2 separate regions of the Homo sapiens genome follow, and region 2 is linked to region 1. Evidence: fine-mapped expression QTL. Tissue or cell type: whole blood. Region 1 holds a variant in brackets; the other region holds the start of a gene. All regions are shown on one strand. Distances are from middle to middle. Region 1 holds the start of LOC124900164. Region 2 holds the start of SPON2 (spondin 2).

Region 1 (14,548 bases):
GAGGGAAGATGTGTGTGCCAGCAGAGAGAGCACGAGGCCTGGAGTTCTCATCTGTGCCACCAGAAGCAGGGGACAGTGAAACATCATCCATGACCACTAGGGAGACGGCTCCATCCCAGGCATCACAAACCAGCCCAGAAGTGTCACCGGTAAGCGCGACAGCAGACACTAGAAGGTATGTCATCCATACTCATTATCCAGAGAAGGTACTAGAAGGAAGCCAGTCACTGCCTCTGAGTCAGACCAGAGGACACCCCCCTGACATCAAGGTGAGGCCAAGGGGAGAGGAAACAGGGCTAAGTAGGGCCTGTGATGTCAGCATGTCTGGTTGGGCATGTGGCAGGGACGATGACTGAGATAGAAGACATAAACCTCCATGGTCCAAACATGGGAGCTAAACTCGGAAAGCCAACAGGACGGGGACATGATGAGGGGACTTGAGGGTCACAGGAGCTCCCTCCGTGTCTCTCTCTCCATAATTAGGTCTAGTGGCAACAGAAAAATGCAGACAGATCAATATGGATGGTCATGCTCACGTTCCTCATGGGAAACAGCGCTTCCGAAGATTCCTCACGGGAAACAGAGCTTCCAAACGTTCCGACTTCCGATAAGTCCATGTCTGTTGTGTATTGGCTGCAAAGAAAACCTCAAGGAACTAAAAAGTAGAATAATTAAAATGATCCTGTTATCCAAAAAATTGTAAAATAAATAACGGAAAGTGCCACCTCTTCCCCCAGAAACTTAGAAACCAACACACTCCCAGGTAGCCCTTGGGTAAAACAGGATATTAAATCTGAACGTGCACTCTCTGAAAAGCCGAGAAGCCATAAATATCAATCCATAAATATCGAGGACTCAGCTAATGCAGCGCCCAGAGCCCCCAGCACAGCTCTTATTTTTTAGAGGAAAAAATAAACGAGAGGGACTTTGTGCCACCCTAAGAAACTAGAATGAGAACAATAAAGTGCATTTTAAAAAGTAGGGAGAATTATGAAGATAAAGCCAGAAATTAATGAGTAGAAAACAAATAAGTAAAAAGGAGAAATGATTGTTTTCTGAAAGAAATAAAATAAAATCCCCTTGCCCAGCCCAAAAGCTGCATCAAGAAATGACTGCCTAGGCTGGGCGTGGTGGCTCACGCCTGTAATGCTTACACTTTGGGAGGCTGAGGTGTGCAGATCACTTGAGGCCTGGAGTTTGAGACCATCCTGGCCAATATAGTGAAACCGTGTCTTTGCAAAAATACACAAATTAGCCGGGCATGGTGGTGCGTGCCCGTAGTCCCAGCTACTTGGGAGGCTAAGACAGAACAATTGCTTGAATCCGGGAGGTGGAGGCTGCAGTGAACTGAGATCGTCCCACTGCACTCCAGCCTGGGTGATAAAGTGAGACTCTGTTTCAAAAAAAAAAAAAAACTAAAACAAATAAATGACTACCTCTATTTAGAATTTTTGTACATTGAAATAAAAAAACCCACACATGATTAGGAAGAAAGAGACCCCAGTATGGAAGAGGCTGGAGGAATGATGAGACAGCCCGCTCGGCCGGGGCAGCTGCTTCGAAACCTGCAGCAGCCATGTTGTCGTGGGTGTAAAGTCCAGAATGACTCTGGATGAGCGGCACCACGCAGAGATGAGCACGAGGTGCTGGAGAGGGCGAGAGCTGAGCCAGGAAAGGAGGCACCAGGAGCAGATGTCCGCAGCTGACGATGACCTCACCTTCCATGGAAGGAAAGTCATCCCAGGGTTACTTTAACCTTCCCAAGACATGAAAGGATGGAAAACTCTGTAATTCATCTCATGAAACCAGGATAATCTAATTCAAAAACCTGATGTGGAACAAAAAGAGAAAACCATAGACAAATATCACTTTTCGCAGATGCAAAAAAATCTAAGTAAGAGAACAGCAAATAGGACTCAATGCAGCATCAGCGGATTCTACACAAGAGAACAGCAAATAGGAACCAACGCAGCGTCGGCGGATTCTACACAAGAGAACAGCAAATAGGACCCAACACAGCGTCGGCAGCATCGTGTTATGGCCAAGCAGATGAAGGCCAGGCTTACGAGGGCAGCGCAGTCATCAGAGACGTCATTTCATTAGCCAATTAGCACAGAAAATTCAGAGAACCTCACCGACAGGTACTGAAAAGAAAACTGACCAAATTCAGCAATCTTTATGAATAAAAGCACTATTTCTAGTAAAATAGAAAAAAGTGCAAAAGTCTCTGTCCACAATAGTGGCCAAGATCGTTCTACGTGGAAAACACAAATGTCACAAATCCAGGGTCGACTCGTGGGGCCTGCTGCTGTCATAATTGTCCAGCATTTTCTCGGAGGTTCTGGCAAACTTAATAGAAAAACCAAATAAATGGCACAAATATCAGAAAAATAAGACAATTTATTTTGTTGATGACATGATTGTAAACCTAGTTATGCCTCTGCTCCCTCATTTAAAAATTAAAAATCAGGCCAGGTGCGGTGGCTCACGCCTGTAATCCCAGCACTTTGGGAGGCCAAGGTGGGCAGATCACCTGAGATCAGGAGTTCGAGACCAGCCTGACCAACATAGTGAAATCCTGTCTCTACTAAAAACACAAAATTAGCCGGGCGTGGTGGTGCATGCCTGTAATCCCAGCTACTCGGGGGTCTGAGGCACGAGAATCGCTTGAACCCATGGGTGGAGGTTGCAGCGAGCCGAAATCACACCACTGCACTCCAGCCTAGGCCAGAAGAGTGAAACTCCATCTCAAAAAATATTAAAATTAAAATTAAAAATCAGTAAAAACATTTTAATACAAGATAAATATACAAAAATTAGTAACTTCCCACTCCTCTAGCAATAATCACCTGGAAATTTTAAAAAAAGGGAGTCAAAATATTCCCTTTGCCATGGCAACTGAGTAGTTGGGGGTGAAGGTTAGGATGCTGTATGGAGCAGCTCCGGCCATGGGGAGCTCGACAGAGGCGTCATTTCTCTCCCACATGGTGGCTGAGAATAGCTGGGTGTGCTGCTCTGTCGCCACACATGGGGTCCCCCCATCACGCCTCTTCTCTAGCCTTCCAGGCATCTTTCCTGGCTGTGGGGTTCTACTGGGTGCAGAAATGCCCACGTCCAGCTGGCAGGAGGGGCCGGGGCCAGGGCAGGAGAGGAGAGGCCATGTTTTCCAAGACCGGAGCTGGCAGGAACAGTGTCTCCAGGTGACAAAAGCCTCCGACAATTTGGCGAGAAAGGTGGGGGTGGGCATGAGAGGATGCAGGGCCCCCACCACTCAAGCAAGGAGAGCGGGGGGCAGAGCCACGGAGAAGACCCAGTCTGGAGCCTCTCCCCCCAGCCTGAAGCCCAGCCTCCAGGTTCCATGAAATCACCTCCAGTTATTCCAGGAGAAACGGCGCACGGCCTAGGAAAGAAAGAACAGGCAGCTTGGACCCAGGCTCCAATCCCGGCTGCTAGTTACCAGACGGGCAGCCACATCGCGTCTGTGTGCCTCAGTTTCTACACCTGCGGCTGGGTTGATGGTTGTGTCCGCCCGGTGGGGCTGCTGTGAGTTAAGGGGTGAGAAACGCTTCCCTGTCCACTGTCTCTGACACGTTCTTCCTGGGTCACCCCTCACTCAACACCCCCAGAGACCAGGCAGGCTCCACGGACAGTTGAGAAGGC[G/A]TCCAGCCTGCAGAACGGAGTCCAGGACCCAGAGAAGCTTCAGGGGTGAGCAGGGTGGGTCGGGGCTGGGGAGTAAATGACAGAGGGAGCAAGTGGAGGGAGGAAGGGGCTTCAGGACAGGAGGTGCAGGCTAAGCGAGGATGGCTGAGCCGCCCTGGTGTCAGAGCAGGGGAGGCTCAGCGGGGGCGGGGGCGGGCTCAGCCTCTGCGCTTCTGCCTCCAGGATGTTATGGATCTGGCAGGGAACGTGTAAACCATGAGCTCACCCCACGGGAACGTGGTTTCCTCTGGCTGCCCCCACAACAGCTGTTCCCCATCAGCACCGGCCCCATCTCCCTAGCAGGAAGCTGGGCAGCCACTGCAGGCCAGGTGTGGACGACCCTCACAACTCTCCCATCTGCGTGGACATCGCTGGACGGGGTGGTAAGGGGGAGGGGAGCAGCGAGGAGAGGGTGGGTGCAGCCCCCCACCCCTCTGGTCCCTGCCTTTGCTGTGAGCAAGTGGAGAAAGCCCAGCTCCTGGAGGTGGGGCCAAGTCTGCAGTGTCCTCAATGCCACCAACCAGGCCTGACCCTGACCACTGACTGAGCACCACGTGGTGCCTCTGCCCTGGATGTGGGCACCCCCGTGCCCTCCTGGCTCTGTTGCAGCAGACCTGTACGCCAGGGCCTTCTAGACGGTTCTGGCCCCTCCCGTGTGGACTGTTCCCACCATACCTGGTCTGGGCTGAGGCTTCCTGGCCCTTCCCCCTCCCACCCTGACGAGGTTGGCCTGGGGCGCCCATGGATGCACCCTGCCCACATGGCCCTCTGCGGTCACCCACAGCCAGCGGGACCCAGATTCCCTGCAGGCCAAATGCAGGTGCCCCAGTTCCTCCAGCCCCTCCCCCCGCAGTATGTGGGCAGTGACAAAGAGGGGGTGGGTCTGGCCCTGTGCCATGCTGGGGCCCCATGCCCGCCCTACCTGCCCTGAGTGTCCCGGCCGTGAGTCCCCAGCCCACTGGCTTCAGGCACTTCCAAGCCCCTTGCTCGCTTCCCTGAAGAGGCTGTGGGTTTCTCCAGGCCAGGCCTGTGGTCAGCAATGCAGGCAGGTGTTTGTGATCAGGGCATCTGTGCTATCAGGAACAGCCCCCAAACCACGCAGGGAGGGAGGAGGCCCTGAGAGAGAAGGTGCCGTTACATGCACGTGACCACAGAGAAGGCTGCCTTCACCCCGTCTGCACCCCGGGAGTGCCTGCCACACTGAGGTCCGCGCGCAGTTTCTGGTTTTCTGATGCTGACTTTTTTTTTTTTTTGGAGACAGAGTCTTGCTCTGTCACCCAGGCTATAGTGCAGTGGCGTGATCTCGGCTCACTGCAAGCTCCGCCTCCTGGGTTCACGCCATCCTCCTGCCTCAGCCTCCTGAGTAGCTGGGATTACAGGCGCCGGTTGCCACGCCCGGCTAATTTTTTTGTATTTTTAGTAGAGACGGGGTTTCACTGTGTTAGTCAGGATGGTCTCGATCTCCTGACCTCGTGATCCAGCCACCTCAGCCTCCCAAAGTGCTGGGATTACAGGCGTGAGCCACCTCGCCCAGCCGGTGCTGCCTTCTTGAGCCGTGGCCTCCACAGTGCTTCACCTGGCTCCCGCAAAACAGCTTCATTGAGATGAAATTCACATGCTCACAAGTCACTCTTTACAGTGTACAATTCAGTGGTTTTTAGCATGTTCACGAAGTTGTGCAACCATCCCCACTCATCTCACTCCGGAACACGTTCATCATCCGCAGAAGACGTCCTGTGCCTGTTAGCAACCGCTCCCCGCCACGGTTTGAGTGAGGCCACAACAGAACATCAGACAGCAGTTTATCAACAGAGACTTCCTGCCTCCCCGTCTGGAGGCCAAGGTTGGGTTCTCCTCTTCCACGATGGCCCTTGCACGTCGCATCCTCACCGGCTGGAGGGTGGGTCTGCCCCACAAGCCCTTTTCATGGTGGCTTTAGTCACAAGGGCTCTGCCTCGTGAGTGGATCAAACACCTCCCATCAGTCCCCACCTCCCGGCACTCCACGGGGTCTAAGTTTCAGCCTGAGCTTTAGAGGACGGAAACGTTCCAACCACGGCACTGCACGCCAGGCCCAGTACTCACCGCTCTCACATACAAAATCATATGAGTCAGCATTCTCTAGAGGGACAGGACTCATAGGATACATGAACAGGGGATGATCTTGGACTCCCTGCCCACCTTCCAGACACATGGGGGCAGGGCTGGGCCCCCACGGCTTCTGTGGGCTCAGCCCACTCAGTGCTCATGGGTCGGAGTCTCCTGCCTGCCGCTCTCCCAGGCTGTGCTTGCTCGCTGGTGGCCCTGCAGTCCTGGGGTCTCGGAGGCAGCCCCCACCTCAGCTCCGGTGGGCATAGCCTCGGTGGGGACTCCGAGGCAGCTCCAACCCCACGATGAGCCTCTGCCTGGGCCCCAAGGCTGTCAGCAACATGCTTTGAAATCTGGGTGCAGGCCACCATCGCCTGCAGTGTCAGCGCCCCGTGGATGCCGTCAAGGCCCCCCGCATGTGCCTTTGGGAGCGATGGTTGGAGCTGCGCCTGCACCTGCCTGAGCCATGGCTGGGGCGGCCAAGGAGGGCTGGGCCAGGATCGGGGGAGACCCAGGCAGGCAGTGAGCTCTGCGGTCCCAAAGGTGCCCCAGGGTCTCATCCCTTGCCATGATTCTGTCCTCAGGGCCCTTATAAAAGGGCTAGAAGGAACTAGCTTGGCTGTTTTTCCTCCGAATTCTGCCATGTGAGGCTGGATACGCCATTGGAGCTGCCCTCAGCAGACCCCAGCCTGCCGGCACCTGGATCTTGGACTCCCCAGCTTGAGAACTACAGGAAATAAATTTCTGTTGCTTATAAATTACTCAGTCTGAGGTGTTTTGTTACAGCAGCGGGGATGGACTAAGACCCTTCCCATTTTCCCCCAGCTGTGCCCTCGCCCCCAGCCCCGGGCAGCTGGGAGTCTACTCTGTGTCACCGTGGACCTGCCCATTCCAGACATTTGACATAAATGGTCTCATGTGATATGTGGCCGTCTGCGTCTGACCTCCTTCACTTGGCAAATGTTTGCGAGGTTCATCCACTTTGGAGCATGGGCCAGAGCTTCATTCCTTTTTACGGGTGAAGAATAGTGTGGGGCCAGGCCACAATGTGCCCATCTGTCCCTCAGCAGATGGACATGTAGGCTGTGCCCACCTTTGGGCTATTGTGAATAATGCTACCAGGAACATTTGTGGATAAGCTTTTGTGTGGATAAGCTTTTGTTTCTGATTCTCGGGGACGTGTACCCAGGAGTGGGATTGCTGGGTCACATGGAATTCGGCTTCACACTTTGAAGAACAGAACAGCCGCATGTGAGGTTCCCACGTCTCCGCCCTGACACCTATGATGCTTTCGGTTCCAGCCATCCCAGTGGGTGTGAGGTGTGGTCTCGTGTGGTTTTTATTTGCATTTCCCTGGTGGCTAATGGTGTTAAGCAGCTTGTCATGAGCTTGTTGGCTGGTCGCATATATTATTTGGAAAAAACATCTATTCAAATTCTTTTGCCTTTTTTTTTTGAGTTAGAGTCTCTCTCTGTCACCCAGGCTGGAGTGCAGTGGCGCGATCTCAGCTCACTGCAACCTCTGCCTCCCAGGTTCAAGCAATTCTCTTGCCTCTGCCTCCTGAGTAGCTGGGATTACAGGCGTGCACCACCACGTGGTGGCTAATTGTTGTATTTTTAGTAGAGATGTGGTTTCACCACGTTGGCCAGGCTGGTCTCAAACTCCTGACCTCAAATGGTCCCCCCAGCTTGGCCTCCCAAAGTGCTGGGATTACAGGCGTGAGCCACTGCGCCCGGCCTCTCCCAGTTTGCCCATTTTTTAACTAGGTTGTTTATCTTTGTATTGCTGAGCTGTGAGAGTTCTTTAGCACACTGGTTTTTCACTACCTTACCCTGGAGCCGATACACATCCTTTCTGCTCAGTCATTAGCCAGAAATGCAGAGAAATGCTACTGTGTGACCCCATGACCTCAGCCTGATGTGCAGGGGTCCCCAGAATATTAGACGGGCACTGACTGTCTGCAGGATACAGACCCGGGAGGGTGGCTTTGCACTGCTGATCTGAACACAGCCTCTCACTGATTCAAAACGTCCTTTTGGCGTGTCTGTAATGCCTGCGTGTTCACCGTTCGCATTGTTACTGTGAGCGACCCACGCACCAGCTCCACACGGGGCTCCCTAGGTGCAGCCTCCGGTGTGTGTTAAAACCTGGTGGCCACGGTTCCCTTGTTCATCTTTTGTTCCAGAATTTCCTTAGTTTTCTTACTTATTTTTCCACGTTAACTTCACAATCAATCTACCTGATTCCAGGGTTCTCCGGTGTTTTAATTGGCCCCGCTGTGGCAGCCGGCCAGCACGAGGGACGGCACCTCGTGACGCCCAGGACAGACCGGGCTTGTTGCTGGTCTGTGGTCCTCAGTCAGGCCTCAGACCCTCTATAACAGGTATAGATGTGCCCGCCGTTTGCTCCTAGAAATTTACAATTTTTGTTGCTGTTGGGAATGGTCCCTTTTCTTTCTTCATTGTCTCTCCTAACTGGAAGTGCTTGAATTTGAAAGATGCTGATTCCTGACTCTGAATTTTGTGCACAGCCACCCTCCGAAACTCACCTCTGCCTTCTAATCAGTTTTCCGGGTCTATGAGGAGTCGCAGCAGGCTGTGCTCGGGTGCAGAGCCTCTCTCCAGCCGTGTGCATGCAGCTCTTCCCGGGGCTCTTGGCTGTGAGGCCTGGCCTGTCCCTGTGGCTAAGGCGGAAGACCCAGCTGTCCCCTCCCTGTGCCCTCGCCACGCCCTCCCCGTAACGCTGACCAGACTTTGCACAGGGCAGGGCCCTGGGGGCACATGGACAGGAACTGGCTGTGGGTGGAGACAGCACCCGGCTGAGGTCCTGGGGAAGAGGCCATGCCCGGAGCTCCTGGACACAGGAGGTGGCGCTGGCTGAGGCCCGATGCCTGAACTGGGCATGGGGGGAGGCACCTTTGAGCTGGGGCCTCCTCGGAGCAGCTGCACCCAGGGGCAAACCCTGCCCCTCGGTTTCCATGTCCACATCTTTACTAGAACTGCAGCTGGCATCCGTGGAGCTGTGGGCTTTGTCCAGGGAGAGCCGTGCCCAGCACCTGGGGGACCCTGCAGAGGTGCTAAGGTTCAGGGTTAAAAACGAGGATCCTGGCCTCCCGCAATCCTGTCCCCAGAGGCCCCATCGGAGCCGCCTGGCCTTCCCTGCCAGCCCAAGCATCCGAGGCTTTTGCCAGCAGTGCCTACGGCAGCCTTGGGAAGGGTGGGGGCCCAGGGAGGGGCATCATTTGGTGTTGATCAGGGGAGATGCTGGCGTCACCACGGCCCCAGGGCCTCCAGGCCCGCCCAGGCTCCCTCACTCAGATGTCCCACCCACAAACACCTGACCAGGCCCCACCAGGGGCCCCTCTCACCCCTGAAGCTGTGCAGGCCCTCGGCTGACAAACTGGGACCCTCAGCTTGGATGGGCAGAAAGGTCCAGGAGGGGCCTCTGAGACCTCCTCGCTCGGGCCTGGGGGTTGGGGCCGCAGGAAGCCATGCTCCGCCCGATGCCCACCCCTAGCTCCCCTGGCTGCCTCCTGGCCTCTGTCTCCCTCCAGGCCCCCAACCCTGACCAGGGAGTGGGGGGTTGGGGGCGGAGCTTTTGGGAGGAGGCCACGCCCAGCATTGGGTTTGCATTTCCAGGGAGGGCTTCTCCTGCCTGGTCTCCTCCCCTGGTACTGGGCTGGGGGCTGTCAGGGTGACCCTGCCCTACCCAAGGCTGACCCGGGGCCATGAACAGGAGGATGCCCCCCTCCCTGCTCCTCATGTGTGCCCCCACGGGAGCCAGCGGGCAGCAGCTGGACCCCAGCAGCCTCTCAGGGCACCCAGGACTGGAGAGGGCCCTGCCAAGGGTCTGCGGGTGCCACTCACCCACCCGGCTGCAGCCCCCAGCTCCCCTGGGCTGACCGTGGGCCTAGGCCGAGCTGAAGGGGCTGGCGGTTGTCAGCCCTTGGTCTGGCCCCACCACTGCTCTGCCAGGGCAGGGGGAGGCCGGCAGCCCAGGTTGTGGGGCCAGAGGGCCACGCTGTGACAGACGAGAAGAGGGAGTGACCTGGAGGGCCCGGGGCAGGGACCAACAGCAAATGCCTCCCTAGGTGGTCTCTCCAGGACAGATGTGTCCCCTGTGGGAGGGCTGGGGCGCCCAGCAAAAGCAGCAGCTCCTCAGGGAACGGGGACCCAGCGGGCTGAGTGGGGCTCTTGGAATAGAAGGAGCCTCCCCAGGCTCAGCTCTGCAGGCGGAGAGGGGAGGCAGGGCCTGAGGCTCATGGTAGGGAAGCGGCCTTGCCCTGTGAGGTCTCCCTCAGGGGGCAGAAGAGCCGGGACCCCGCCAGCAGCAGAGAACAAACCCCAGTCTAAGGCGAACCCCAGGTGTGGGGTAGGTGTAAAAGCAGATGGCTTTGACCACGAGTGCACAGGTGAGGGGCAGACAGGTGTGAGCAGGTGTGAGCAGGTGAGGGGATAGGTGGGAGACACATGGAGGGTGGGAGGAGATAGGGACAGGAGAAGAGGCAGTGGGGGCAGGTGTGGGGCAGGTGTGGGGCAATTGGAGGTGGGTGGGGGTGGATGGTGTCATTTGGGAGTGGATGGGGTTAGGTGTGAGCAGGTGCAGGGCGGGTGGGGAGCACGGGGAGGAGGCTGGAGTTGGTGTGGGCAGGTGCAGGGCAGTGCCCGGGAGGCACTGTCAGGTGAATGTGGGGCTGGGCAGAGGCTGACCTGGGACGCCAGGGCTGCTGCTGAGAACCTGCTGTCTGGGCAGGCAGCCGGGCCCCGCCAGGTGTGACTGCCCACTGCACAGAGGGGGTGGAGGCCGGAGGCCTAGACGCCTGTAGGGGCTGGGAGGGATGTGGGTGAGTCCGGCTGCTCGACACCCTCCGTCCCACCAGTGTCCACAGCCCTGGCCCCGGCTGGCCCCGGCGTCCCCACAGTGGGCACCCCCAGCTGGAGCCAGCTTGCATCAGGGACCTGGATAGTGAGTGGCGAGCCCTCCACAGTGGGATCCTACAGACACTGCTACCACTGACCAACGGGGTCAGTAGCTGGTTTAAAAAAGAAAGGGCAGCAGAGAGGCCACCCAGAAGAGCCGCTGTTTCCATGTGCCGCGCTTACACATGCTCCAGAGGGTCCGGCTGCCTAACCATGCGCCGCGCTTACACATGCTCCAGAGGGTCCGGCTGCCTAACCATGCGCCGCGCTTACACATGCTCCAGAGGGTCCGGCTGCCTAACCATGCGCCGCGCTTACACATGCTCCAGAGGGTCCGGCTGCCTAACCATGCGCCGCGCTTACAGATGCACCTAACCTTATATTGTTCAAGTCTCATGTCCTGCCTATCAGGGATGTTTTCGGACCCTACATGGGAAGCCCTTGGCCCGTTTGAAGGTCGGGTCAGGGGGCGGCTGAGGCTGTCCAGGGCAGTGGTCAAGGGCTTGGGGAAGCGGAGGTAGACTCACCAGGTGCTGGTGCTCAGAGGGGCCGGGGAACACCCACGCCCTGGCCGGGCCACCCCGTCCCTCCTGGTGCTTGATGCCAAGGGGAGCGGGTCAGGCCGCGAGAGGCCCAGGGCCAGCCTGGGGAGCAGAGCTGCTCAGCGGGGCAGAGGTCCTCCTCCGGGCGCCGGGCTCAGGGCCCAGTGGCCAGATGGTTTTCTTTGCTGCAGGGAGTGCCGGCTGCGGGGGTAGGCCTGGGAGGGCTCATGCAGCTGCTCTTGGGTTTCTCTGCTGTTGTTTTTTGCTGGAAAATCAATCCTGCAAGTCCAGCTGGGCTCTGGCTGAGAGCAGCTAGGGGTGGGGATGGTGGGTGCTTCCCGGCCCCCACGGGGCAAGTTCTGGGCCCACAGTGGGGAGAGAAGGCAGGATGGGGTGCAGGGCCAGCCTGGGGTGGGGCCCCGAAGAGCCTGGCTCCCTGCCCTGTGCCCTGCTTGGGCCACCCCAGAGGGACTGTCCCGACCCTCCCAACTTCCTGCCAAGGCCCCCGGAGCTGCCTGCAGCCTCCCCTTGCTCCCGTGCCCGGGGCGGAAGTCTACAGGAGACCAGAGCCCGGGTGTTCATCAGCAGCCGCAGGAGAGTTCCCCACCAAGGCGCAGTAGCCTGAGGTGCTGGGGCTGCCCGACCCTCCCCAGCTCCACCCCTCTTGCCTCTGAGCCCTACCCAAGGCCTGGAGAATCACCGCTTCCTCCTGCTCCAGGGGTTCCAGCAGGGCCCTTGGAGGATGTGCCTGCCGCGTTCTCAGCCCTCTCTGCCGACCTTTCTTGAACGGACTCTGGCCACGGTGCCAACGCGTCAACGGTCTGTCCGTCTGCTGTCCGAGCTCAGGGGCCGTCCATGCCTCCACGGCTGGCATACAGTAGCTCTGGTTTTACCCATGAGGGGGAAGCCCAGCACCCGTGCCCTCGATCACATCGCCAGTTCACAAACACACATGCGCACACGCACACGCCGCCCGCCCACCAGGCAGACACCCACACACCTGTGCACGCACGCGCACGCCAAGCCAGCGGGCCCTGCCCCTGCCCCGGAGCCCTCAGTGTCAGAACCAGGCTGCTGTGGCTGTTTCCTCTTTAATTCGCCTGAGTTTTATGAGCCCAAATTCATAGACCTTTGTTGCTGCATATAAACTTGAGGATAAACTTGTTGAATTTGTTCAACGTAAGCAGCTGAAATTCTGCGTGGGGTGGTGATGAACGGCTCTAGCACTCGGTAAAAGGTATTTAAAGCGCATGTAGTTTACAACACTAACAGCCCGCCGCCCGCGAGCACAGCCCGTCTGGTCATCCGGCGGCCTCACCGTTCACCACGGTTGGCGGCCCTGGTCACTCCCACGGTCTTTACCAGCCGGGTGCCAGTGGCTGGGACCAGGTTCTGACCACTGTGCCCACTCACTGTGGAATCGCGTGAGCAGGCCAGACCCTGCGTCGTAAGGACAGAGCAGGACACGTCCTGTCATGGGGCACCCGCTGTCTGCGACTTTGTTTCCGTTTGTTTCCGCCTCAGCTTGGGGGAGACAGTTGGCAGGCACCAGAGGCGCTCCTGTGAGGTCACCTGGCCAGTCTCAGGATTAGCTGCAGGCTTTGGCTGATTTTCTTGGGTCTTGTACACAGATGCTTGTCAGCAAATACCAGAGACTTATCTCTTCCCTTCCAACATGCAAACCTTCCTTCATGTTCTTGTCTTAAGCGTTTTGGCACAACCTCCAGCCTAATACCAGCCTCTAGGGAGATAAACAGTGCTGCCGATTTCACAGGCCAGGAAACCGAGGCTGAGGGCCCCCCACCCACCTCCTGCTACCCCGCACCCCTCCTGGGGCCTTGCTGGGCGGGGTGACTCCCCGGAGGCGGCACCAAGGGGAGGTTCGTTTCGAGGCTCAGAGCACTTTTCTGACAGCTTTCTGTCCCTTACATCCCAGACTCAGTTACACTTCAGCGTCCCGGCTCCCTGGCCGCCAGGCTCACACCACAGACAGCCCTTGGAGGCATTCCATTCCTGCCCCGACCCTTCAACTTGGAAACATGGAAACAATGAGGCCAGCTGAGTGGGAGCCTCCAGGCCTGTGTCCAGAGCTAGTTCCCAGTGTCTGGCTGCCTCTCAGGGCGGGGCCTGTCTCCAGCTGGAGCTGGGAGGGCGGCCCACCCTGCCAGAGGCCAGCCCCACCCTCGGCTGCCGTGGGGGCTGACCAGGGCCCAGTGACCCAGCCCAGGGCTTGCCTGTGGAGAGGCTGGAGTCAGCCGTCAGCGCGGAACTCCTGGTCTTCCCACTGCCACCTCTGCAGCCCCCACCAGAGATATCAGAAAACATCAGCTCCAGCCTGCAGCCCAGACACTTGAAGTCACCTTGGCTGCCCCTCCTCACACCCGTGCCCACGTCAGCAAAACCAGGGCCGGCTTGTTAACCGTGTCCAGAACCCACCCTTCCCACCCTGCCCAGGCCACCTCCCTCAGTGGCCCAGGGGGCTCCAAGTTGAAGAGCCCAAGACAGGTCAGAGATGGGCTGGGCGGCCTCTGCCACTCACCTCCGGAGAGGGCAGGGAGCAGAGGCCTCAGTCATGAGGTGGGGCTGTCCTCGGCGTGGGCCTCGAGACTGGGAGCCACTGCCCATACCCAAGAGACCTCTGCGAGCACTGGGGTGCAGAGCCAGGTAGGAGGGGGCACCCCACCAAAGGCAGCAGCCCCCCCCCGCTTCTTTCTGCTTTATATGGGGCAGGGAGCAAGGGGAGGTTGACACTTGGCGGATGACGCGGCAGGGTCTGGACACTTGGGGTGGCAGGATAACCCACCTGCATGCAGGGAAAGGCTTGGGATGGAAACATCCCGAGGGGACCCGGGTTCCCCAGCACCCGCTGCAGCCCCTCCTCGTACTACCTGGACCCGCTGCAGCCCCTCCTCGCACCGCCTGGACCCGCTGCAGCCCCTTCTCATAAATGAGTTGGGACTCTGCTGATTTGCATGGACCACGCTTCCAAAAGCAGCTCTGAGAAACCAGGAGGCTGGGATTTTGAAGAGGACGCCGGTAAACAGGCTCAGCTGTGGGCCAAGGTGAGGCATGACCCCTTTTGGCTTTTTTGCCCATTTCCGTAGGCTGGCTGACCCATGGTCTGGGGAGCTTCCTCAGCCCTGACATCTGCTTTCCTTCCTCCTGTGGCCCACAGTCTTCCCAGGTTGCAGGCCGGCCTGCAGGAGCTATGCCAAGAAGGGAGGGGTGGGCAGTGGGGCAGGACCTCAGCCAGTCACACCATCATCCACACAACGGCCCGGCTGGCACACTGCTTCCCTCC
Region 2 (10,392 bases), 31 kb before region 1:
GTCCAGCGGCGTTTCTGGAACTGGACCAAGCAAAGGGGAGACCGAGGTGAACGCTCGCGTGAAGAGGCGCTTCGTACAAACGGAAGCCACCTCCCACCAACGTGTGCATTCATCAGAGGCCACGCCCACCCTTCGGGGGCACTTGCGTTTCTCCGCACAGTCGCAGAGTGAGCGGCAAGATGGGATGGCACCATAGCAACCTCGGACACAACCTAGGGACTGGAGTTGCGCGTTTCTACGTAAGAGCCGGAGCTGCCGCTCAAGTCCCTGTGGTGGTGGAACTCCCACATCGTGGCAGAGTAAGGGGCCCCTGGGAACCCCGTGGGAACCCCGGGAGAGGGCGGACACCCCTGCTGTAGAAAGCTGCTCTGCCCGAGCCTGGACCCAGCTGCTACATTTACCCGAATAACAGACAGGGGCACCTGATTAGCTGTCTTGCGGGACCTGGACCCCCCACAGGACTCAGACCTTTTCAGTATCGTTCTCGTTTCCCTGTGTCCCATCTGGTTCCATAATTTTCATAAATTTAAAAATCATCATTTGGTGTTATGGTTAAGTCACTTGGTAATTTCCATGTTTCCAAAGCAAAGTGAAAACACCTCTTTTGCACCCCACAGGCCAAGCCAGCCAGATGGACAGTGTTTCTCTGGCTGTGTGGCCCAGAGCGGGCAGCCCCTAAGGAGGCCAGGAGCCCCGCCTCACTCTGCCGTGCACGGGAGGACAGTCAGCAAGGGCTCGGCTCTCCTCACAAATCTGCGAGTACCCTGCTGCCAGCTTTGTGGCTACTGAAGGATGAGAGAGAGTGGAGAAGGGGGTCAATGTGCAGGTGCAGTGCCTGGACTGGTCTGGAAGCCCTGGCCAGGCCCACACCTGGAGCAGCCCTCTCCAGAGATGCAGGAACAGGGCTTGCAAAGACCTTGGGCGCTGAGGCTTCGCAGGGGCACTGGTGTAGAAGCCAGAGAGCCAGGGCCCCGGGCAGCCCACCTGGGGAGCACACAGAGCTGCTGGCAGATCCCAGCACCCCCCAGCTTCCTGACTGAAACCGAGGTGGTGGGAGCGCCCCTGCCCTGGCTGCAATGAGGAGTCAGTGAGCACTGGCAGTGCCTGTTCTACAGCGAGGGCCCCACCACAAGCCTCTCCAATGCTGCAGAGCCCTGTCAGGAGGCCTGGGGACAGGCATCCAGCGTGTGAGCAGGAAGCCAGAGCTGAGCCAGGCTGGCTTGGCGTGGACCTGGCGGAGCCTCCTGGGTGCCAGCCGCCACATGCCCATCCCAGCCTCTGCCCTCGGGAAGCCAGAAGTCACAGGAGAGACCCTTGTGGGCGGTGGTCTGTGCTCCGTCCCCACTGCCCACTCTGGTCCCTCGGCTGGCACAGCTGGCTCTGTCCGTCTCCCACCCTTCTCTCCATGTCCTGCCTCCTGCTCAGAGCTCATAGCACAGTCTCTCCCCACCCTTCCCCTGCAATACTGCTTCTGCTTGGCCACAGCTGACTTTATCCCTCTCCTAGCCCAGGGCACTGGCCATGTGCTCCCCTGCCCACTGTGGCCCAGTGCCCCCAAATGTGGGGCAAACCGCACCTCTCTGGACCCTCTGCCCACGAGGGGCTCTTCCCGCCAGACCAGTTGCACACCACGAACAGTGCTGGCACGTCTGCCTGTTGGGTAAGTGGCTCGGGGACATCTGCTTGGAATGGGGCATCCGCGTGGACAAATGAGTGAGGAGCCCAAGCCTGCACTGGGCAGGGGCAGCACCGAGGCTGGCACAGGGAGGCCCAGTTCATCCCAAATGAGGAGGGACCCAGGACTGGGCACAGTCTCTGTCTGGGGAGTGGTTCCCGCCAGCCAGGCGGCCTCCTGTCTGACCTGACCTGGCCCTTGCTTCCAGGGACGGCTGACAGTAAGCTTGTAATTACTGCTGCTCCTCAAGACGACATCTGTCCCTACCACATGGCTTGGGGGGCAGGTGTGGGGCGGCCCCGTACCTGCCTCAACTCCAGCCAGCAACATGGAGGGTGGAGGACGACGGGGCCCATGGCCAGGTTGGTGGGCTCCAGTTCCTCCTCGGGAAAGTCTGAAGTCCGCTGTTGTCTGGGGCCTACACTGACTGTCCCACACCCATATCAGGTGAGACCCAGAGACCCAGAGCCAACAGGCCCTGACCCACGACCCAGCAATGCGCTCCAGACCACAGGCGCTCCGTGAGGCCAGTGGCTGCCACCCAGCTGAGTAGGGAGGGAACTGCCACTCGGCCCCAGCGTTCCCAGCCTGCCCTGTCCAGCAGGTGCCTGGAAGAGCTAGGAGAATGCTCATCAGCACCTGCCCCGCCCCAGGCCAAGGCGCCTGTGAGCAGAGCCCCGAGCTGTGTGGTGGCTGGGTCCCGAGACCCCCACAGGTGCCCTGCAGCATAGCTGTCACCCGGTGGCCACACAGGGCCATCCTAGCAAGCTTCCTTGTCAGCTGTGACACACAGGTCACCTGTGGGTGCGTGTCTGACAGGACAGAGTCTCTCAGGTACTGTCTGGAGCCTCCTTTCATTCTTTCCTCTGGGCTGTGGCCCTGTAAGATGCTTTCAACTGCAAATAATGTGCAAGAGTCACATCTTCAGTGTGTGAATCAACAGAATCCTAAATCTTCTAGGCACCATCTTGCAGTACGCACTACGAATCCCTACTTGGAATTTCTCAGAGCCTTAGGTTCGGGTTTGGTGGTCGCCCTGTGGCAGGGTTCGGGGCTGCTGTGTGTCCCATGTGACCTGTATGTCCGTTACCTGAGGCGCTGTCTACAATCTCATTGTCCCTGCTGGGCAGGACTGGGGCGGGAGGGATGAAGGCCCTGGGGCTCTGTCGCAGCCGCACCAGTGTCACCCTGGCGATGGGAGGCAGGGCCTTCAGCCGCGGGTAGTAGAAGGAGTTGGCCGGGTGGCTGGGAGAGGAGGACGTTATCTGGGGAGGAAGAAGAGGAGGTTGGCCTGGGGTCCGAGAAGCCCACCTTCTGGTATGCGTATGGCCTCACTGGGGCCACTGCCCAGCGTCCAGCGTGCCCTCTGCACCACTGTTGGGGACAGGGTCCCATGTACTCCTCTCAGCCATCCCACGGAACACGGGCTGGAAACCGAGGCCAGGAAGGGGCAGCCTCCTCGGGACGCGCGTCCCGCTGTCCTCCCTGCGGTGCTGTGACCCCGGGTTGGGAGAGTATGGGAGGGCTGCACCCCCTTGCTCACTGCTGGCGCTAGAAGCAGAGCCTCTTCCACACAAAAGCCGCAAGCGGCTGTCCTGGGCTGGGAGGCGAGGGTGCAGCCAGGCCCCAGCCCCGTCCCCACCGCGGGGGCCATAGCGGCCCTTGCGCACGCGGGGTGCCCACTCACCTCGGTCACCGTGTCCTGCGGGATGGTGGCGAAGTTGGGGGAGGAGAAGGTGAAGCCGCTGTCCGTCCCGGCGTCGTAGGGGTACAGGTCCAGCGCCGCCTGTTCCCGCCAACGGTCCCCGTCGCACAGGTCCAGGCTGTCCACGCCCACGAACCAGTCGGGGCTGGGCACGATGCGCACCACAAACGAGACCTGCGGCGACAGCGGCTCAGCGCGCCTGGCCCCGGCCCCCCGGACCCCGCCCCCGGCCGGCCCCGCGCTCACCAGCGAGTGCCTGCGCTGCACCTCCAGCTCCGCCGACGTCTGCCCGGTGCCGCTGGGGACGGCGGGCGCCGAAAACACCGCGTGCACGCTCTGCAGCGCCTCCCCCGCCGCCTCGATCTCCTTCATCAGCGCCCAGGCCTCGCCGCGCTCCGCAAAGTCGCGCAGCCCGTTACTGACGTACTGGTTCTTCCTCCACATGCTGTAGTCGGAGCTATGCGCGGCCCCTGCAGGACCACCCGGCCGCGCCGCGGACCATGGTCAGACACTGCGGTCGGGCTTGGATTCCAGGGGGCGCCCCAGGAAATCCCTCCCCGCCGCCCGCAGGGAACCATGGCCCCCAGTCACGTCGGACCGTGACACCCTGTGGCTGCCCCTGCCGCGACCCACCTGCGCCCTCCCCGTGAGCGCCCCCTGCCCCCACCGCATCCCCGGAACCGCACACCGCAGGCGCTCGGCAAACATTCTGGTGTTAGAGTCTCCCGACGTCAGCACGCCCCAGACTGGGAAGCGCCGCCGTGCAGCTGTGCGGGGGGCTCCGGCGCCGCAGCCCTCCTGGTGGAGCAGGAGGCGAGGAGGGGGCTGTACTTACCCAGCAGCGAAGACCACTGCGCAGGGGGGCGGAACAGGGGGTACTGCTTGGGGAAGGCCGTCTGGCTCCACTTGCCCGTGAAGGTGATGCTGTATTTGGCCAGGGCTCTGGCGGAACAGATGGACTCTCCCCCAAGAGGCTGGCCGGCGGCGCCGAGAGTGGCCAGGAGGAGAGCGCAGAGGGCCTTGCCCAGGGCGGCGGCCGGGCTGGGGTTTTCCATCACCTGGGAGCACAGAGGGGAGCAGCCGCGCGCTGGCACCGTCGTGGCAGCCTCGGGGTGGAAAGCCGAGAGGGCTGCGGCACTTTGGGCTCTGAGGACGGCCCCGAGCACCCGCGACCCCCTCCCTGCTCCGCAAAGCTCTCCTGCGGTGCTTCCGAGACCCCCATCAGCGGAATGGACGGCGCGGGGTTAGATCGCCCGTGCGCCTGCGAGCGACCAGGGGTAACGGGCAGGTTTTCAGTCCGAGTCCCTGCAGCTTGCCGGGCCGGTCTGGGTGCGGCCTCCGGGATGCCTTCGCCGTCGCAGGGACCCGGGGCCTTGGCCGACTGGCTGCCCCCGGGACTAGACCCTTAAAGCTCGGTCGCAGCCAGTCCTGGGGGTCCCTCTGGAGGTGCCACAAGGTTCTGGGCCGCGGGGAAAGTGCAGGAGGCCCGGGCCCTCTCTGGGTGTCCCGGGGGCACGCAGTACTCACCCGGCAGGAGCAGCGGGAGCGCGGCCGGCAGCGGTCGGGTCCCAGCCAGAGCCCGGAGCTCCTATTTAAGCCCGAGGCCGGCGCCCCGGGCCGGCCAATGAGGCTCCAGTTCCTCCTGTCTTCGATGCTGCACGGCCTGGCCTCCAGCGAGAGGCAGATAGGACGTGGGAGAAAGGAGGAGAAGGGGCTGCGGGGGCGGCGGGGGCTGCCGCTTTCCCAACTCGCCCTGCCCAGCGACCTTCCCCGGGTCGGATCACCCTCTTCCCCTGGCAGTGCTGCCGCACCCCTTTCTTTGTCTGTCTGTCCTATCCCTCCCCTCCCCTCCCTGTCCCCTCCCTTCCCCTCCCCTCCCCTCCTCCCCTCCCCTCCTCCCCTCCCCTCCTCCCCTCCCCCCTGTCCTCCTCCCTCTCCCCGTTTCTCTCCCGTTCCAACAAGCGCCTTCCTGGTGCCTCCCTAGGTGCCACTGAGGGGAGTTCTTTGCCCCAAGCCTTTCGGGAAAGCTCAGGGCGTGGGGGCAGAGGGGCTCTTGTTTTCACCTTCTCGAAATTAGAGCCAGCGTGCTACACCTTCTTGCGCAGGGTGTGACCTGGAGAGCCCTGTGCGTGGCCTGACTTCAGTCTACATGCTGGAAGTGGCTGGGGAAGCTCCTGGCTCCCGGCGCAGGCATCCCTGGCCTTTGGGGCCCTGGCTTTAAGTCTCTTTCCTGGCATGGCCTAAAGCTGCACAGAACAGCCTAGCGGTCTGCACTGTGGCCAGAGGGCATTTGCAAGCCATCCCTCCTGGAGGGAGGTCAGAGTGGGCTGAGGGTCTGGGGTGGAACGCGCAGGGAGTCAGGAAGAGCCACAGAAAGGGGGCCCCCCTCCCCAGGACCCCGCACAGGGCTGGGGCTGCAGGCCGGCGGTGTGTGCGGTGCAGAGCCCTCCCAGGGGCTCTAGGCTTCCCTGCCTTTGGGATGAAGCTAACAGATGCTGAAGTTGATCCTGCTCCATGTCAGGAAAATATTTATAGGTCCCCAGTCATGGGATCTGGAAACAGAGCGGAGGAAGGAGCTCGGGAATGGTCTTGCTCAATCCTTCCCGGCCTCTGCTCATCGGAATCACCCAGAGGGCTTTTAAGCTTAGACAAAACACTCTGATGTTTGGAACCCTGTTAATGTTTCACAGATTCAAAAAGAGAGAAAAAATAAATAGAAGCAACTAGGACAGAATGCAAACAGAAACAAATGATCTAACCTGTATTTTAAGCGAAAACCACAGATCAGCCACTCAATGCAGTATTTAGACTCCAGGCCCCCAGGCCAAAGACAAATTTCCACCTCCGTGCTTCTCAAATGTTTTTATCTGAGGACTCCTTCATACTCTTAAAGGTCACTGAGGGCCAGGCGCAGTGGCTCATGCCTGTAATCCCAGCACTTTGGGAGGCCGAGGCGGGAGGATCACTTGAGCCCAGAGTTTGATACCAGCCTTGGCAACACAGGGAGACCTCATCTCTACAAAACATACAAAAATTAGCTGGGTGTGGTGGAGTGCGCCTGTGGTCTCAACTAGTCAGGAGACTGTGTCTGTGGTCCCGGCTACTCAGGAGACTGAGGTGGGAGGATCACCTGAGCCAGGGGAGGTCAAGCCTGCAGTGAACTGTGTGTGCCACTGCCCTCCAGCCTGGGCGACAGAGTGAGACTCATGCCTGTAATCCCAGCACTTTGGGAGGCCAGGGCGGGCGGATCACTTGAGGTCAGGAACTCGAGACCAGCCTGGCCAACATGGTGAAGCCCCATCTGTACTAAAAATACAAAAACTAGCTGGATGTGGTGGTGCACGCCAGTAATCCCAGCCACTCAGAAGGCTGAGGCAGGAGAATTTCTTGAACCCAGGGGGCAGGGGTTGTAGTGAGCCAAGATCGCGCCACTGCAGTCCAGCCTGGGCAACAGAGCGAGACTCCATCTCAAAAAAAAAAAAAAAACAAAAAAACAAAAAACAAAAACAAAAAAAACTAATTGAGGACACTGAAGAACTTTTTTGTTTGTATGGGTTATACCTATGGATACTTATCATTTTCTAAATCATAACAGAAATGTTCAGAATACTTGCCAATTCACTTAAAAATAAGAAAATATTGCTATTACACATTAACATAAATAGCATAATGTTTTATGAAAAGCAATCATACTTTTAAAAATGAAAAACCCGCCTGAGAAAAGTGGCGTGGTTCTACGTTGGTGCGAATCTTTGTATTGTCCGGCTTAGTGGAAGCTGGATTCCCATATCGGCTCCAGCACTTCATCTGCTGAGATGTGCTGTTGGTTGAAGTCTATGAAGAAAATCCAGCCTTGGCTGCGTATGTTACCAGCCTTGTCAGGTGCCTGCTCTGGCCTGCAGCCCTCGAAAGCCGCCGTGTGCCCATCAGAGCATGGGAGCAAAAGGTGCCCTCATGCAATGGGCTTCGATCTCATCATCTGCCTGGAAGGATCTCAGGCCCTCCACGAGTCCCCAGAGCAGGACTGGCAGCCGCTGCTCAGAGGCTGGACTCGAATCCACAGGCCTTTTTCCCAGAGCGGCATGGGGCGGCTGTACTGCAGCTACTCTGCATCCCTGGACAATCCTCGCTTTCTGGACAGCTTCCTCGGCTGAAAGGAGCACAGGCTCCATGGCAAAGCTACTGGCTCTGGGTCTGAGGAGAGGAAGGAGGCGCCGGGTCTGGGGCATGTTCCTGTGTAGGAAGCCAGGGTGCCGCTCCAGAGACTCGCTGAGGCACAGTCCCCATCTCAGTCCAGCTCTGGCCGTGGCAGCGGCTTCCAGGCTCACCCAGTCTCACAGGAGGCCAAGGAGGCTGCGGAACAGCCCAGGGGCAGCAGGAGCTGTTCTCCCAGCCCGGCCCTCATGCCGTCTCAGTGAGCTCTGCGACCTGGGGCCCCCACTTGGCGGTGGGCCCAGGCTGGGGGGTCTCCAGCTAGGATGTAGGGCGGTGGTGGGCCCAGGCTGGGGGGTCTCCAGCTAGGATGTGGGTGGTGGTGGGCCCAGGCTGTGTGGGGGGAGTCTCCAGCTAAGATATAGGGTGGTGGTGGGCCCTGGCCTGGGTGGGGGTTCTCCAGCTAGGATGTGGGTGGTAGTAGGCCCAGGCCTCGGGGGCTTCAGCTAGGATGTGGGTGGTGGTAGGCCCAGGCCTGGGGATCTCCAGCTAGGATGTAGGGTAGTGGTGGGCCCAGGCCTCGGGGGCTTCAGCTAGGATGTAGGGCAGTGGTGGGCCTAGGCCTGGGGGTCTCTAGCTAGGATGTGGGGTGGTGGTAGACCGAGGCCTTGGAGGTGCTCCAGGCAGGGCCACAGCTGATTTGTCTGGGAAGGGAGGGGGCTTGTTTGGAGGGCTGGAGTAGACAGCAGCCAGGAGGAACTTCCTTTGGTAGTGGGAGGCCCCTCCAAAAGCACGCCTGCGAAGGCCCTAGGGCACCAGGGGACATGGGAGCATTCTTTGCTGTGCTCAGAGAGGGGGACATGGGAGAACTGGGGCCAGGTGGGCTTAATTTTCTGGATCCTGTGGCCCCTTGGGTTGGATCGGGCTGGGGTCTCAGGCAGAGCTGTTTCTGCACTGAGGCAGGGACTGCAGGCCAGTGACGGAGTGATCTTGTGTGACTCCATGCTCTCAGAGTCTTGCTGGAAACCCCCCTGGCTCTCAGACCCTCTTCTGTGAACCAGAAGTCTCTATCCTGCCTTCTGCTGAGGGTCACAGGATAAGTATCCATAGGTGTAACTCACACACCAGCACTTTGCAAGGTGTCCCCCCACCCACACAGAAGAGTTCCTCTGTGCCCGCAGGCAGGAGCAGCCCCCCACATACACACACAGTACATTCATTCATTCACTCACACAGTACTTTCATTCATCCACCCATTCAAATAGTACATTCATTCATTCACTCACTCACACAGTACATTCATTCATCCATTCACACAGTACATTCATGCAATCATCCACACAGTACATTGATTCACACAGTACATTCATTCACTAATTCACTCACACAGTACATTCATTCAAGCATCCATTCACACAGTACATTCAATCATCCATTCACACAGTACATTCATGCAGTCATCCACACAGTACATTCATTCACTAATTCACTCACACAGTACATTCATTCAATCATCCATTCACACAGTACATTCATGCAATCATCCACACAGTACATTGATTCACACAGTACATTCATGCACTAATTCACTCACACAGTACATTCATTCAATCATCCATTCATACAGTACATTCATGCAATCATCCACAGTTCATTCATTCATTCACACAGTTCATTCACACACTTCATTCATTCATTCACACACTTCATTCATTCATTCACACCATTCATTCATTCATTAACCACAAGGTGAGTATTCCTTGCATCTCAGAGATGGGGACAAAGGAGTGACCCCACTAGGCCCAAGGTTGCAGGGGGCTGGGGTGGAGTGGATACATTTTGTAGATTGGATTCTCTTATTCAGTAAAGTGTTTAGTGAATTGGTTGACAGCAATGCCAGGGTCCTCTGAGGACAGGGCCTTCCTGGAGGTCACTTGAGCCACTTGCCCCAAGGTGGTTTTCAGGAGAGTGTGGCTCAAGGCTGTGGCTGGAGCCAGTGGCTGCTGCCTGTCTGCAGCTGGGCAGAGCAGCCCCTGTGTCCACATCCAGCTCCACCTGGCTGCCCTGCCACGGCCCCAGCAGGCACCCCCTTGTCTTTGACACCCCCTTAGTGCCTGCTGTGGTTGGGTAAGTGTAGACCACAGTGTGAGTAATCAGCGCCCACACTCCCAGGGTGTTGGCAATGTTTAAAAGTTGTCTTAACCAAAATGTGTTGCTAAGGTTGGACTTTTGGACAACCGCAGGTGCTGTGAAGCTCCTTTCCCAGTCAGGCATCGGGGGTGGAGTCTGTGCTGCTTAAATTGGATCTGAGCAGGCGGGTGTGGGGTTTCCATGGGTTTGTTTGTGAGCCGCGTGGAGCAGACGGCATACAGGAATGCCTGGCGAGCCTCCCCTAACTGCCACCCTGCTCTGTTTCGCCTCAGGCTGTGGCCCTGCCCCGGGCCCCAGAACCCAAGATCCCTTCAGGGGGCAGGGGTCCCAGCTGAGAAGGGAGAGGCCTTCTTTACCTTTCTGCATGGGTTCTGGCATGGGGGCCCTCAGGGTCTGGCATGTCAACGGCTCTTTCAGGGCTTGCCCACAGCCCCTCCCTGGGGCGCGGCACAGGCACCCAGGCCTGGCCCAGCAGCATGGAGCTCCTGGCCACATCTGCTGACACCACACCAGCTGACTCAGACGCGGAGTACCCACCCACGGGAGCGGCCGTCTCCTCCAGAGCACCCAGACTCCAGGATCAGTTTCTGGCTCCCCCAAGGGACCCTGCTGCGCATTTGAAAACCCACCTGAAAAGTCCTGTGTTTGCCAGCCCACCCAGACACATCACACTTGCTTGTCCACTCACGGACATGTACCAAGGGCCTCG

What was found.
Region 2: SPON2 starts here. The variant in region 1 is fine-mapped to the expression of SPON2 in whole blood (TOPMed, PIP above 0.99).

The regions. Positions count from the first base shown.
Region 1 is chr4:1,196,648-1,211,195 of GRCh38, forward strand. It overlaps LOC124900647 (nascent polypeptide-associated complex subunit alpha, muscle-specific form-like), which reads left to right. Exons shown (of 3, transcript XM_047416477.1): 2 at 1-149; 3 at 484-2,391. It overlaps LOC124900164, which reads right to left and starts at 4,610. Exons shown (of 1, transcript XM_047416479.1): 1 at 3,979-4,610. The coding sequence starts at 4,610. The coding sequence ends at 3,996. It overlaps LOC100130872 (a long non-coding RNA gene), which reads right to left and starts at 12,315. Exons shown (of 4, transcript NR_024569.1): 1 at 11,929-12,315; 2 at 8,335-8,469; 3 at 4,622-4,815; 4 at 1-3,400. It overlaps CTBP1-AS (CTBP1 antisense RNA), which reads left to right and starts at 13,473. Exons shown (of 6, transcript NR_104331.1): 1 at 13,473-13,911; 2 at 14,243-14,309. It also overlaps a transcript of SPON2 not described here. RefSeq lists enhancers at 1-1,113, 2,996-3,545, 4,041-4,260, 5,501-5,700, 11,879-11,948. The variant G/A (reference allele first, on the strand shown) is at 3,661.
Region 2 is chr4:1,167,637-1,178,028 of GRCh38, forward strand. SPON2 (spondin 2) reads right to left here and starts at 4,947. Exons shown (of 6, transcript NM_012445.4): 1 at 4,908-4,947; 2 at 4,216-4,438; 3 at 3,627-3,850; 4 at 3,363-3,554; 5 at 2,766-2,940; 6 at 1-20. The coding sequence starts at 4,435. All of the region lies in intron 1 of LOC124900647 (nascent polypeptide-associated complex subunit alpha, muscle-specific form-like), which reads left to right. RefSeq lists enhancers at 4,127-4,842, 4,843-5,560, 9,765-9,874.